Linked DNA regions of Homo sapiens. The protein of the gene in region 1 purifies or fractionates together with the protein of each later gene. This does not show direct contact. Each region holds a gene or a part of one and is shown on either strand. Other genes may lie near its edges.

The links. The genes of interacting proteins can lie anywhere in the genome.
Region 2: the proteins of RIPK2 (region 1) and ERN1 purify together in Homo sapiens (affinity purification with western blotting, with the first as the bait; one study listed by BioGRID). This does not show direct contact.
Region 3: the proteins of RIPK2 (region 1) and NBR1 purify together in Homo sapiens (affinity purification with western blotting, with the first as the bait; one study listed by BioGRID). This does not show direct contact.
Region 4: the proteins of RIPK2 (region 1) and ATF6 purify together in Homo sapiens (affinity purification with western blotting; one study listed by BioGRID). This does not show direct contact.

The regions. Positions count from the first base shown.
Region 1 is NC_000008.11:89,788,644-89,791,596, forward strand, and holds the end of RIPK2 (receptor-interacting serine/threonine-protein kinase 2), read left to right. Parts: intron 1-677; coding exon 678-839; intron 840-1,435; coding exon 1,436-1,773; 3' UTR 1,774-2,421; downstream 2,422-2,953.
Region 2 is NC_000017.11:64,043,145-64,046,845, forward strand, and holds part of ERN1 (serine/threonine-protein kinase/endoribonuclease IRE1 precursor), read right to left. Parts: intron 2,339-3,701; coding exon 2,215-2,338; intron 1,784-2,214; coding exon 1,716-1,783; intron 1,057-1,715; coding exon 844-1,056; 3' UTR 1-843. UniProt on the Homo sapiens protein: Serine/threonine-protein kinase and endoribonuclease that acts as a key sensor for the endoplasmic reticulum unfolded protein response (UPR).
Region 3 is NC_000017.11:43,195,013-43,198,713, reverse strand, and holds part of NBR1 (next to BRCA1 gene 1 protein), read right to left. Parts: coding exon 3,675-3,701; intron 2,234-3,674; coding exon 2,123-2,233; intron 1,773-2,122; coding exon 1,608-1,772; intron 1-1,607. UniProt on the Homo sapiens protein: Ubiquitin-binding autophagy adapter that participates in different processes including host defense or intracellular homeostasis.
Region 4 is NC_000001.11:161,849,619-161,853,319, reverse strand, and holds part of ATF6 (cyclic AMP-dependent transcription factor ATF-6 alpha), read right to left. Parts: intron 1,656-3,701; coding exon of another isoform or gene 1,599-1,655; coding exon 1,485-1,598; intron 97-1,484; coding exon 1-96.

The DNA of each region.
Region 1 (2,953 bases):
GCATGCAACTGTAATCCCAGCTACTTAAGAGGCTGAGGCAGGAGAATCGCTTGAACCTGAGAGGTGGAGGTTGCAGTGAGCTGAGATCGCAACCATTGCACTCCAGCCTGGGTGGCAAAAGCAAAACTCCATCTAAGAAAGAGAGAGAGACAGAGAGAGAGAGAGAGGGAGGGAGGGAGGCAGGGAGGGAGGAAGGAAGGAAGGAAAGAAGGAAGGAAGGAAATATAAGACGAAAGTTCAATGAAGACAGAAAATGTAATTGCGTGGATTTGGGAATAGAGGGGATGATTAAGTCCCTGAGGCTCAGTGGGATTGCCAGAAGAGAAACTAGAAAGACAGACATCATATATAGATTTAGAGAACATACTTAAACTTCAGAAGGAGTAAGAAGACACACAGGAAAAATATGGGACTATGTAAAGAAGTAAAATTCTATGATTTATAATTTACACAGAACAGACAATTTCTGACAGAAATTGTAGTGAAAGCATTCCATATAAACCCTTTTTTGTTTTAAGAAATATCTACTTGCAGAATTAGGTTTCTGAACCAGCCTTAATATTAGTGGAAACTAAAGACATTGGAGCCTACCTTCTGTCTGCTCAGATGTTGACATGTTAGCCAATAGGAATTTCTAAGGAGTATTCTACTTCTAATGAAGATGTTGTATTTTGTAGGAAAAGCTCAAGACTGTTATTTTATGAAGCTGCATCACTGTCCTGGAAATCACAGTTGGGATAGCACCATTTCTGGATCTCAAAGGGCTGCATTCTGTGATCACAAGACCACTCCATGCTCTTCAGCAATAATAAATCCACTCTCAACTGCAGGAAACTCAGGTAAATATTTACTGTGAAACACCTTGTAAGTGATGCCATTGACCTTACATATCTGTGTTCAGTGGATTTACCATACAATGAGGTTTGTCTTTATTTCCTCAATATGATAAATACATACCTTCTTAAGTAGGAAAACAAATCCCAGGAGATGGGAATGATGACATGGCCCAAATGGTATTCTATGAACATCTAAATAGGGAGGCAGTGCTAAGAGGAGGTATTAACATATTACTAATGGTAAAGTTATTTTTGTTTATTTAAAAAATTTGCAGGTATCTTTTATATTTGAAATAAAATGGACATCAAACAAAACTGAACAAATCCCAGAAGATGGAAATGATGACATAAAGTGGTTTTTGCCCCGTGATTTATACCATAGGAAAAGGCAATGCCTTTTCTGGGGAGTGAGGGGGAGATAACCCAAATCTCTGAATGTTTCCTGAAAAATGACACCATTCCCCAAAGTGTTGGTGTTCCATATTGGCACAATCATAGGAAAATTATGTTTTATGCTTTATTTATTTTTCATGGAATTTTACTTATTGCTATGTATCTGTCCTCACCTTTTAAATTATTCATTCCTTGTTCTTTTTCAGAACGTCTGCAGCCTGGTATAGCCCAGCAGTGGATCCAGAGCAAAAGGGAAGACATTGTGAACCAAATGACAGAAGCCTGCCTTAACCAGTCGCTAGATGCCCTTCTGTCCAGGGACTTGATCATGAAAGAGGACTATGAACTTGTTAGTACCAAGCCTACAAGGACCTCAAAAGTCAGACAATTACTAGACACTACTGACATCCAAGGAGAAGAATTTGCCAAAGTTATAGTACAAAAATTGAAAGATAACAAACAAATGGGTCTTCAGCCTTACCCGGAAATACTTGTGGTTTCTAGATCACCATCTTTAAATTTACTTCAAAATAAAAGCATGTAAGTGACTGTTTTTCAAGAAGAAATGTGTTTCATAAAAGGATATTTATATCTCTGTTGCTTTGACTTTTTTTATATAAAATCCGTGAGTATTAAAGCTTTATTGAAGGTTCTTTGGGTAAATATTAGTCTCCCTCCATGACACTGCAGTATTTTTTTTAATTAATACAAGTAAAAAGTTTGAATTTTGCTACATAGTTCAATTTTTATGTCTCTTTTGTTAACAGAAACCACTTTTAAAGGATAGTAATTATTCTTGTTTATAACAGTGCCTTAAGGTATGATGTATTTCTGATGGAAGCCATTTTCACATTCATGTTCTTCATGGATTATTTGTTACTTGTCTAAGATGCAATTTGATTTTATGAAGTATATACCCTTTACCCACCAGAGACAGTACAGAATCCCTGCCCTAAAATCCCAGGCTTAATTGCCCTACAAAGGGTTATTAATTTAAAACTCCATTATTAGGATTACATTTTAAAGTTTTATTTATGAATTCCCTTTAAAAATGATATTTCAAAGGTAAAACAATACAATATAAAGAAAAAAATAAATATATTAATACCGGCTTCCTGTCCCCATTTTTAACCTCAGCCTTCCCTACTGTCACCAACAACCAAGCTAAATAAAGTCAACAGCCTGATGTGTATCTTTCTGTCCCTTTCTTCCTGCTTATATTTAGAACATATGCTCATTTGAGAAAGGATCTTTCTGCATATTATTATTATAATTATACATCATACTGCAACCTGCTTTTTGCATTTAATAGTACAGCCTTCCAGATCAGATATGGCTCTAACTTACTCTTTTTACTTGCTGCCTAATACCCACAGTTTTTATTTTCTTAACTTGTCCATATCAAATTTAGCCCAAACAATAAAAGTACGGTGTGAGCACTTTTTTGGTTAATAGGTTATATTACTATAGGAGAACTTACAAGGAATAATAGCCCTTTTCTGAAACTGCGTAGCGAAGTCAGCAGAAAGTGAGATACAGAATAAATTTGAAAAGATGAACTTTCAAGAAGCAACAGACCCACAACCTGAAAAGTTTGAATAAAAGAAATTAGATGCCATTGAGGTAATTAAATATTAATTAGAAATATAAGCATTTTAATCTCCATTTTAGAGCTTGACATTAACTTGTACCTCTTACTGTGCCTTTCAGAAATATGGAAATTA
Region 2 (3,701 bases), on another chromosome or scaffold:
AGGCTGGCCCCTGTCTGGGTCTTCGCTGCTCTCCTTGAAGGCCAGGGAACTCTTTACCTCTTGCCCCAGGCGCTCCTGAGCACCACCCCGAGATGGCCCGGGACACACCCACCAAAGGCCACTGTTCTGGCCACTGGCACTGGGCCACGGCTGCCTCCAGAACAGAGCAGCCTCTTCATTTCTGAGACCTGCAGACACAACCCCACCTGCCAGCATGCATAGCTGACCAGTCCCTAATGCCACACCTCATGCTCATGGCTCCTGCTGCCTCTGCAGAAACACTAGTTAACAGTGACCTGGGCTACTCTGGGCACATCTGTGATCAATGAGAAATCTCACACTGCAGGACGACACCCTCTGAACTCCGTCCTCCCCCTCCTCAGCATCCCCCACCTCTCAATTCCGGTCTCCAGTGAAGGCTGTACTTGGTGCATCTCAGCCTAGCTGTCCCAGCACGCAAGCAAAATGTACGATTCCCTCCTCTCCCTTCCTGAAAGGCCTGTAGACTGACATTAAGCAGGAATTTAAAAAGTCTGAAGCAAGTTTATCCAGTAGATGGCTGGGGGTGCTACTCGCGCTGTCTCTGAGGCCCTCCTTTGCAGACATCATGACCGTAAGGCTTTTGGGGCCAGCATCTTCCCAGTTCCCTGTAGGTCACGAGGGGCCACTTCTCCCACTTCCTGGGGTCAGCACTGTCCTCTGTGGGCTGCAGAGCAGGCAGCTCAAGGCACTTGGTTTGGGAAGCCTGGTCTCCCTGCAAAGCCGGGAGGCATCAAGCTCTAATTGTGGTGACCAGGCCCTCAGTCACAGCTGGGGCCACCAGAACAGAGGGGCCGCCCTCGCTCAGAGGGCGTCTGGAGTCACTGGGGGCTGGGGCTCTGGGGGCTCGTGGAAGTAGTAGGGCTGGAAGAGTCTCTCGTGGCTGCACAGCTCCATGGCCCGGTAGGTGTGTGCGAGGAGGTGGGGGAAGCGAGATGTGAAGTAGCACACGAAGTCGTCGGGGAGGGACCCCAGCGTCTCCCGCACCTCTGCAGGCAGCTCCCGGTAGTGGTGCTTCTGCAAAGAGTTAGAAAGCTCGGGAGATTAGAAAGGGGTTAGAAAGCTCGGGAAATGTTGGCAAAACACCCTTTCATCATGCAAGGAAGAGACAGAATGTGAGTGTTGGTTTTTGGTAAAGAAAAAGAAAAAAGGCTTATGTATCCAAGAATCCAGCCCCGTCATCTCGCCTGCTACCCTCACTCAGGAGGAGGCCTTGAAGTGAGCAAGGCCCAGCCAGTCCAGGGGGTGCTCAGGCCTTCTGTGACAGTCAGGACCTGGAGACACTCCTGGCCACCTCAGGAGGAGTAAAGTCGCCTGAGATTGGAGTGTCCGTCCCAGTGGGGTCCCCGCATTTGAGGTATGTTTATACATGTTTACACACAGTGGCTGCATCAGACAGGGAGAGGGCCCCACAAAAGTCAGCGACCAGAGACCATGAGGGACATGGGCCGCAGAGCACTGCTTCCCGGAGCTTCACCTGCACCTACGTCCCTGAAGGGAAAATCAGCGTAAGAGAGGCAACAGCCTGCAGTTTGCCAAGTCCAGCTGAAGCCGCCTAGCTCCTGAGAGATGAGAATGCCAGTACAGATAAAAGATTTATAAAGAATGGATGAAAGGAGGAAGGTGTCCATGTCATGGCCACTGGGTCTCCTCCCCAGCATTTACAAACTGCTTACCTTATTTCTCATGGCTCGGAGGAGATCTCTGACAGAACCACCTTTATAGGTCCTGAATTTACGCAGGTCTAGAAAAACATTGAGGGAAGCAATGGGTAATCAAATTTAAAACTAATACATTTTAAAAGAAAACAATTCATGGGGTCCTGGGATTAGGGAGTTGGACTGAAAGGTGAGGTCACTCCACACCTAGGCATGGGAGCAGATCCTCCCATCCAACCCAAGGGTGGTATCCCCCTGAACCCCACCTGGTGATCACACCCAGGTCAGAAATGACCACCTAGAGCACGACACCATCACTCACCTGTCACTCTAGGGAACAAAAATGAAACACACATCAGTGTAACCAAACCACAGAGGACACACCCAAGAAAGTCTCAAACCTGACAGGTGGGATGTGGGGCCTGAACAGCCTGGAGCGGCCATTTCCACGTTTACTTTTTGGAAAGGCGGCAGCGACTTTTGCAACCTGCCCTCTCACACGCTGCAGCATGATCACCTGTCTGGAGGGGGACAGTGATGTTCTCCCGCCAGTCCATCTTCACCACGGCTCTCCCGCCTCTCTCTAACTGCTTCACGATCGGGCCATCCAGGGATTCCTTTTCTATTCTGTCGCTCACGTCCTGTGAGAGAAACAAGGGCAGCAGATGATGGTCAGTGCTGGAGATGCTGAGAGCTGTGCGACTGGGACTCAGTAACAGATCATCACTGACACATAAGCCTGCCCCAGAGCTGGGCAGCAGGCACCCTGCCCCCTCCCTCCCTCATCCATGACTTTCCCTGTGAGCTGCTCTGTTCCTCACGAAGCACAGGCCCACAGAGAGCTTCTCCCATGTCAGAGAGGTGTCACAGAGTACACCTGCATATAGACCACGAACGCATACCCTGAATTTCACATGTGCACACACACGCCATGTGTACGGAGCCGCAAGTGCAATCTATATCCAATGAACCAAAACCAAAAAGAAAAGGAAAGCTCAGATTTGATGTGCATCCCGTGCTTTGTCTACTCACTGAAACAGGGTATGCTCAAGCCCATAACTGGTGGAGGGTCGCCACTCTTCCCTCCACCAGTAGAAAAGACCTGTGAAGCTGGGCCTTCTTCTCAAAGAGGAAACTTGGTGGCAAGAGTATGGGCTCCAGAGGCTCCTGTTGGGATTCAAACCTTGCTCTGCATTTGACTTTGGTAATAAGGAGAGGGTCAGGAAGCACCCAAGTATGGCCTCTTGAAGTCCCACCAGTAAGACAGGTCGACAGCTGAGGACACAGGGAGTGGTGAGCCCTGTCTACATCAATGTTAAGTAGCCTTAGGAGACCCTTTTCTCAGAGCAGCCTTTTCTATGATGAAGATGAAGCCAGACTGGCTGAACTCCTAATTTACAATTGTCAGAGAGAAGCTGTGGAGAGGTTAGATTGTCAACTTGGGTACACTGGGAACACACGTGTCTGAGCTGCAAAGCTGTTACGGCTAAATGACCTGAGTGGAAGCCAGGTGTGTTCGAGAGACATATGACCTGGAGATACTAAGCATTTAAATCCTGTCCCTTGGTGGGTGAAGGTCCCTTTGTGTGGGTTTTATTCCTGTTCTATATTTTGCGATCAAAATGACCTGGTTAGTTTTCACAAGTCCCTGGAAGACATATGGACTTGAGAATTTTCACATTATGTCCATGGACACAGTGACCAATCCATATGCTACAACATGGAAGACAGCATTAAACTCTTCCCAACCCGATCCATCTGAATGGTTGGGCCAGGCAGCGTCCTCCCTAGGAGGCAGGGACACAGTAGTGAATGCAGCAGTCAAGCACTCCTGTCCTCGAGGAGCTTACATTCTGGGGGCTTCCCTCTGGCCAAGGCCCCAGTCAGACCCCAGGAGAGCATGATGGTCACTTCTCAGTACGGTGCCCACCAAGCTGCACTCTGCCTGGACCCAAGGGGAAAAGCACTGCCCCACAAGCCTGCTTTCAGAGCCACGTGCTGGGC
Region 3 (3,701 bases), on another chromosome or scaffold:
CTGGGATTACAGGTATGAGCCACCGCACCTGGCCACATGTACACTTTATTATTTTTTTTTTTTAGACGGAGTCTCGCTCTGTCACCCAGGCTGGAGTGCAGTGGTGCGATCTCAGCTCACTGCAACCTTGGCTTCCCGGGTTCAAGCAGTTCTCCTGCCTCAGCGTCTTGAGTAGCTGGATCACAGGCACACGCTACCACGCCCAGCTAATTTTTGTATTTTTAGTAGAAATGGGGTTTCTCCATGTTGGTCAGGCTGGTCTCAAACTCCTGAGCTTGTGATCTGTCCGCCTCGGCCTCACAAAGTGCTGGGATTACAGGCGTGAGCCACTGCGCCTGGCCTTACATGTATACTTTAAACAAAAGTAAGATAAATAATATTTAAAGATATAGGTCAAATTTGATTATAATAAAGAGATTCTCCAATATTATTTTGACATAGTATATTTGAATTTTTGGATACTTCTTAAAATATATGCTATTGGTTCTATCTATCTGATACCTAGAAGTTTCTGTTATAAAGGTATTTATTCCTTTTTTTTTTTTTGAGACGGAGTTTCACTCTTGTTGCCAGGCTGGAGTGCAATGGCGCCATCTCGGCTAACCACAGCCTTCGCCTCCCGGGTTAAAGTGATTCTCCTGCCTCAGCCTCCCAAGTACCTGGGATTACAGGCATGTAATCCTTGGCATGTAGCCACCACACCTGGCTAATTTTTAGTATTTTTAGTAGAGATGGGGTTTCTCCATGTCGGTCAGGCTGGTCTCGAACTCCCAACCTCAGGTGATCCACCCGCCTCAGCCTCATAAAGTGCTAGGATTACAAGGGTGAGCCACTGTGCCCGGCCTATAAAGGTATTTATTACAGCAGAATTTAACCTTGAGAAACTTTGTTGGTACTCCTGCTTCTATCCACTGTTTCTGGGACTGCTGCCCTTGGAGAAAGCAGACAACTCAGCTACCCATAGGGGTCTCTGCTAAGGAGCTCTGTCAAATTACAGGAAGATTCCTTACTGCAGAATCCAGGCAGCACAACTGGCTGCTATTCCACTGTGGAATGCAGCTGTAATTCTGCCCCTGAGAAGATGGAGAAATGAGTATGATGGCTTCTTTACTCCTGATGCTCTAATTAGAACAGTCAGGTAGCATACGTAGAGTCTAAAGACACAAACAAGATCAGAATTTCTTTTTTTTTTTTTGAGATGGAGTCTCGCTTTGTCGCCCAGGCTAGAGTGCAGTGGCGCAATCTTGGCTCACTGCAAGCTCCGCCTCCCGGGTTCATGCCATTCTCCTGCCTCAGCCTCCCGAGTAGCTGGGACTACAGGCACCCGCCACGTCGCCAGGCTAATTTTTTGTATTTTTAGTAGAGATGGGATTTCACCATGTTAGCCAGGATGGACTTGATCTCCTGACCTTGTGATCCGCCTGCCTTGGCCTCCCAAAGTGCTGGGATTACAGGCTTGAGCCACCACGCCCCGCCAAGATCAGAACTTCTAACTAAGATCACTCTCCCTTCAGTCTCAGTGAAGAAGAGCACATCTAACTAGTCAAGTCTGGCAGTCACAATTCAGGTGCCACCCTGCTAGGTAGGGGAAATGCAAGGACACTCACTCTGCAAGGACTTCTGTCTGCAAGGAGGGTTGTGGTCTGGGGCAGCATCCAAGGTAAGGGATCGGATTACTGTCTCACACACAAACTGGGTCCCACTCAGGTCTTCTTCTGCTTCCTCCACAGAAGCAATGTTCTCAGCCTTCCTCTTTACTGACACCATAGAATCTGAAAGACACACGAACCTTATCTGCACTGGGTGTTTAAAGTGCTGAGGAACATTCACCAGTCATTACCCATGCTAAAACTAAACCAAGGAATAGCTGCTATCTAAACTTTGTCTGCACTTGGTGTTTAAAGTGCTGAAGAACATTCACCAGTCATTACCCATGCTAAAACTAAACCAAGGAATAGCTGCTATCTGTGCCATGTGAAGGTGAGGAGACTTCAAAACATGAGATGCTACAGAAAGCAAGCCCATTTACATGCTAAGGTAGGGTCAGTAGGGGATAGCTGTAAAATAGGGTATGATATGGAAAGGGAGGATGCAAATACTTTACAAATGTTTAATCCCTTACCAGGAAGTGCTTTAAATCCTGCCCCTTCATTCTCTTCCTCTATCTGCCCCAAGCCTGGCTTCTCTATTAAAGGACTGTCATGTGGCAGAGGAGACATGCAGGGAGTCACATCTGGAGAATGAAGACAGGAGAACCATCAATCAAGAGAAAGCATCATATCATCAACAGTCAGTGTCCAGAAGTAGCAGTTTGTAGGCTTCTTGCCTCCCGCAGGGCTAAAATAAACCAAGATATGCTTTGAGGTCTGTTACAAAAAATTTCTCCAGACCAATAAGTAAGCAAAATATCTCAGATCAATCAATGCAGGAAGAATCACAGTTATTTAGCCTGGAAAGCTGTGGCCAAGACACAAAACCATGAACATAAAGGAACAAAAGGACACAAGTATCTAGAGGGAAAAAAGAGAAGAGGATTCCTTTATAGTGGAAAAGCCTTGCACGAACTTGTTTTATTGCTTTTTTTTTTTTTTTTGAGATGCAGTCTTGCTCTGTCACCCAGGCTAGAATGCAGTGGCACAATCTCGGCTCACTGCAACCTCCGCCTCCCAGGTTCAAGCAACTCTCTGCCTCAGCCTCCCGAGTAGCTGGGATTACAGGCACCTGCCACCATGCCTGGCTAATTTTTGTATTTTTAGTAGAGATGGGGTTTCACCATCTTGGCCAGGCTGGTCTTGAACTTCTGACCTTGTGATCCACCAGCCTTGGCCTCCCAAAGTGCTGGGATTACAGGCGTGAGCTACCGTGCCCAGCCTCTTTTTTTTGTTTGTTTTTTGAGATTGGGTTTCACTCTGTCATCCAGGCTGGAGAGCAATGGCACAATCCTGGCTCACTGCAGCCTCTGCCTCCTGGGATCAGGAGATTCTCCCACTTCAGTCTCCCTGGTAGCTGGGACCACAGGTGCAGGCCACCATGCCAAGCTAATTTTTTTTTTTTTTTTTTTTGAGACGGAGTTTTGCTCTTGTTGTCCTGGCTGGAGTGCAATGGTGCAATCTCAGCTCACCACAACCTCCGCCTTCTGGGTTCAAGCAATTCTCCCGCCTCAGCCTCCCGAGTAGTTCGGATTACAGGCATGTGCCACCATGCCCAGCTAATTTTGTATTTTTAGTAGAGAAGGGGTTTCTCCATGTTGGTCAGGCTGGTCTCAAACTCCCGACCTCAGGTGATCTGCCCGTCTCAGCCTCCCAAAGTGCTGGGATTACAGGCGTGAGCCACCGTGCCTGGCCACACCCAGCTAATTTTTAAAAGTAATTTTTGTAGAGATGGGGGTTTCACCATGTTGCCCAGGCTGGTCTCAAACCCTGGCCTCAAGTGATCCTCCTGCCTTGGCCTCCCAAAGAGCTGGGATTATAGACACGAGCCACCATGCCCAGCATGTTGTTACTTTTGACAAAGGACAGGAAAGAAGAAAAACGGATCCATGATTGCTGCTTTACTATCCTACTGTGGGAGAAATCCTTGCCATTTCCTCAGAATAAAACACTACCAGTGTCTAGGCTGTGGTACTTTTGTGCCTATTAGTAAGACGAACAAGATGAAATGAGTGACATTCTTACCCACAGGGGTGTTGTGGGGCACTCTCT
Region 4 (3,701 bases), on another chromosome or scaffold:
AGAATACGGGTTTTCTGTTGATTATTTGTCATTCTTCTTGACTTGGTCCTTTCTACTTCATGTCTATGAACCCATCCTCGAAGTTCATGATTTAACCTATAAAATATAGTTTAATTAATTAAACATAGAAATTAATTAAACATAGAAATGGATGTTTCACCCTGTGGGTGGAAATGAATCTAATCATTTGTAGGTTCCAAAGAGCATTCCAAGTGCCTGATGACTCAATATTGCTTTTTGATTTGAAAAAGTTGACACTTAACGTTGTTTTTAATAAGACATGCATTTTTACATGGTAAACCTGTCAACCATGCATTCAAACTTCAAAGAAAACTACAGCTAAATACCTCCCAAATATAAACACTGGATGCTAAGGTTTTTCCACCAAAAAAAGTATTTCCTTGCCAGGCACAGTGGCTTACACCTGTAATCCTAGCACTTTGGGAGGCTGGGGTGGGAAGACTGCTTGAGCCCAGGAGTTTGAGATCAGCCTGCGCAACACAGTGAGACCCTGTCTCTACAGAAAATTTTTTTAAAAAATTAACTGGGCATGGTGGCATGTGCCTGTAGTCCCAGCTACTCAGGAGGCGAAGGCAAGAGGATCACTTGAGCCTGGGAGTTTGGGGAAGCGGTGAGCTATGATCCAGCCACTGCACACCAGCCTGAGCAACAGAGCAAGACCCTGTCTAAAAATAAAATAAAATAAAACAAAACAAAATAAAAAGTATTTCCTATTTCTGTTCTTGGGCTATATAAACACAAACATTTGAGACACATTGTAGAGAACTTAACAAGTCATAGGACCCCTAACAACAAATAGATGCATTAAAACCTCTTGAAAATCATGCTCTTTTGGGAGAAGAAAAAGAATGAACTCAATTGCCTGGGGTAAAAAAAAATTCAAATTTTTCAACACACGAAATAAAAGCATAGCTCATATATAACTTCCCTTATTTTGCTTACTTTTTACAGCAGCTGTGAAGATGTTAAACTATGTTTAACTGTAGTTGATTACTACATATCACAAAAAATCTGAGGTAGTTTTTGAGGTTTTAAGGGTAAGGTCCAAAATCACAGGAAAAAAAAATTCAAGGGAAAAATTGATAAAGAAGTGTGTACTAACGGTAAAGTATCTCCAGAATCACATACCCACAAATTATTATCTTCCTAATTGGAAGAAAAAGGTACTTTCTGCTATGAATGTTACCAACTGTAAGCCTAACACCATGAAATTTTAATATTAATTTCATTCTGTAGTTTTTAAAGAAGACATATTTAAGTAAGCAACTATCACATAAAATAGACCCATCACCATCTCCATGAGGTTGGTGGAGAAACTGGACAACTAATATGCCTACAGTTATCCACAAATAATTCAGAGATTCTCTCAGTCACTTAGTGAACTTGACCAATTACTTGTCTAGGTTCCAAAACTAAACATGGGAACCAACTCAGATGTTTCTGCAATAATCTACAACACTCACCTGAGAGACTCTGTTGTGTTAATTAGGGGCTGACAAGGAGGTGGAGGAATGTAAAGCAATGGTTCTTCAGTTAGCACCATCAGGGCTTTGTCATTTGAAACAGAATGATCATATCTGAAACATGGATGCACAAAATTTGTTTCCTTGTATCTTAAATTCCTAAGAAGTTTGCTATAAGAAAATCATCATTAGTGTTAACTTTTCATGGAAACAAAAATATAGTAAACAGAATATACTGCAAGATAAAGTATAAAATACAAAACCTTATTTTACATGAAATGTCATTTTCTGATTTTCTACAGAGACAGGATGGTAATTCACATTTGTCTAATCACCATTTATTGAGCAATTAATTTGGAATAAGCGATACAATAACACATGGTTCATCATATCTTCAATGAGCTTAAGACATGCACAATGCTGCTGGTACAGAGGTAGTAACACAGTAACGGGGTAATTGAGGCGAAAATCAAGTGGTATTATGTGACCAGACTAAAGTTTAGGGGTCATTCACAATTCTATGATAATAAAATTGGATAGTATCTGTAAAACAGGTAGGGGTGTGTGTGTGTGTGTGTGTGTGTGTGTGTGTGTGTGTGTGTTAAGGATAGGGTGAGACACAATTCTATGATAAAACTGGATAGTATCTGTAAAACAGGTAGGGGTGTGTGTGTGTGTGTGTGTGTGTGTGTGTATGTTAAGGATAGGGTGAGACATAAAATGCTTGGCAGGAGAAAAGTGAAAGAGTTGAAAAGCCGAATATAAACTATGGGATCATGGAAGAATGTGAATCACTAATAAAACAACAGAGTGACTGACATTAACTAGTTACTCCATTTGCTTCAAAAATATATACTTTCCTAGCCATCGCACTGATGTAGATCATGTGAATTCATATCCAAGGTGTGACGTAGGGAGCAAAACTGGAGTTGAAAGTTAGAATTTGAGATGGGGATATTACTGTTATTTATGCTCTTCAGTCTGCAATCTTAATCTCTCTCACTAACAAAGCTTGCATCTCTCTTGAATTTCTTTATATAGGATGATCTGGATTTAGAAAACTAGATATGCTAATATCTCAAAAGAAAACATGTAAACATATAAAACTGAACATAGTGAGACTCACACTTTTCATTTATTCATTCAACAAATACTTGCTGCATACCAACTGTGCACCAGGTATTGTGCTAGGTGCTGAGAATCCAGTAGGGAATGAGAGAATCAAAGTTTCTGTCCCCAAAGACCTTAATGGGGAAGATGGACCAAATAGAAGAAAATAAATGCATAAAATAATCCGAACTCTAGTAAGTGCTATGAAAGAAACAAACAAATGGTTGAAATGGAAAAGCAATGGTAGTATATACTTTAGATAAAATGGTCCGAGAAGGAGATGGTAGTTACATCAAGGCCTAAATGATGAGAAGACGCCGCCTCTATAGAAACTGGGGTAAGAGCATTCTAGGCATAAAAGAGGCAGGTGGGGGAAAGGTGGGCTCAAAGAACTTTAAAAAGACCACTGGCTGAAGAGTTGCAAGCAAGTGGGGAGGTAGAGAGGGAACAGGATGAGGCTGGAAAGGAATCATAATAAGGTCATAATAAAAGACCAGGTCATAATAAGGAATTACTAAATGTAATAAGAAGTCATAAAAGTGTTTCAAATAAAGAAGTGATATATTTCAATTTACATTCATACCTTGCCATGGTACCAAAAATGGACTCAATGGAGGCAAAAGGGGAAGCTGAGACACTGATTAGGAAAGAGCTATGGCAATCCTGGCAAGAACTGATGATGGCATGGACTAGGTTTGTGGCAGCAGAGACGGAGAGGAGTGGACCAATTCAAGACAATTTTGGGGAAGAGTATCAACAACACTTGTTGAAAGACAGGAATCAGGATTTCTGGCTTAAGCAATGGAAAGGAAAAAACACAGTTGTAGAAAATTGGTTGGAAGTAAAACAGGGAGAGGAACTGAGTTCCACAGTGCACATGTTAAGTTTGAAATGTTAAAACAGAGATGTCAAAGAGACTATTGGATATGTGACTCTGGAGACTCAGAAGAGAAGTCTGGACTGAAAACATAAATTTGAGAGTCATCAGGACATATAGATATGAACTGTGCATGAAATTATAGATGAGTCACCTAGGCAGAAAGAAAATAAAAAAAGTTTACAGTTCCAAACCTTGAGAGTTGGGTAAAAAAAGAGCCCACAAAGATT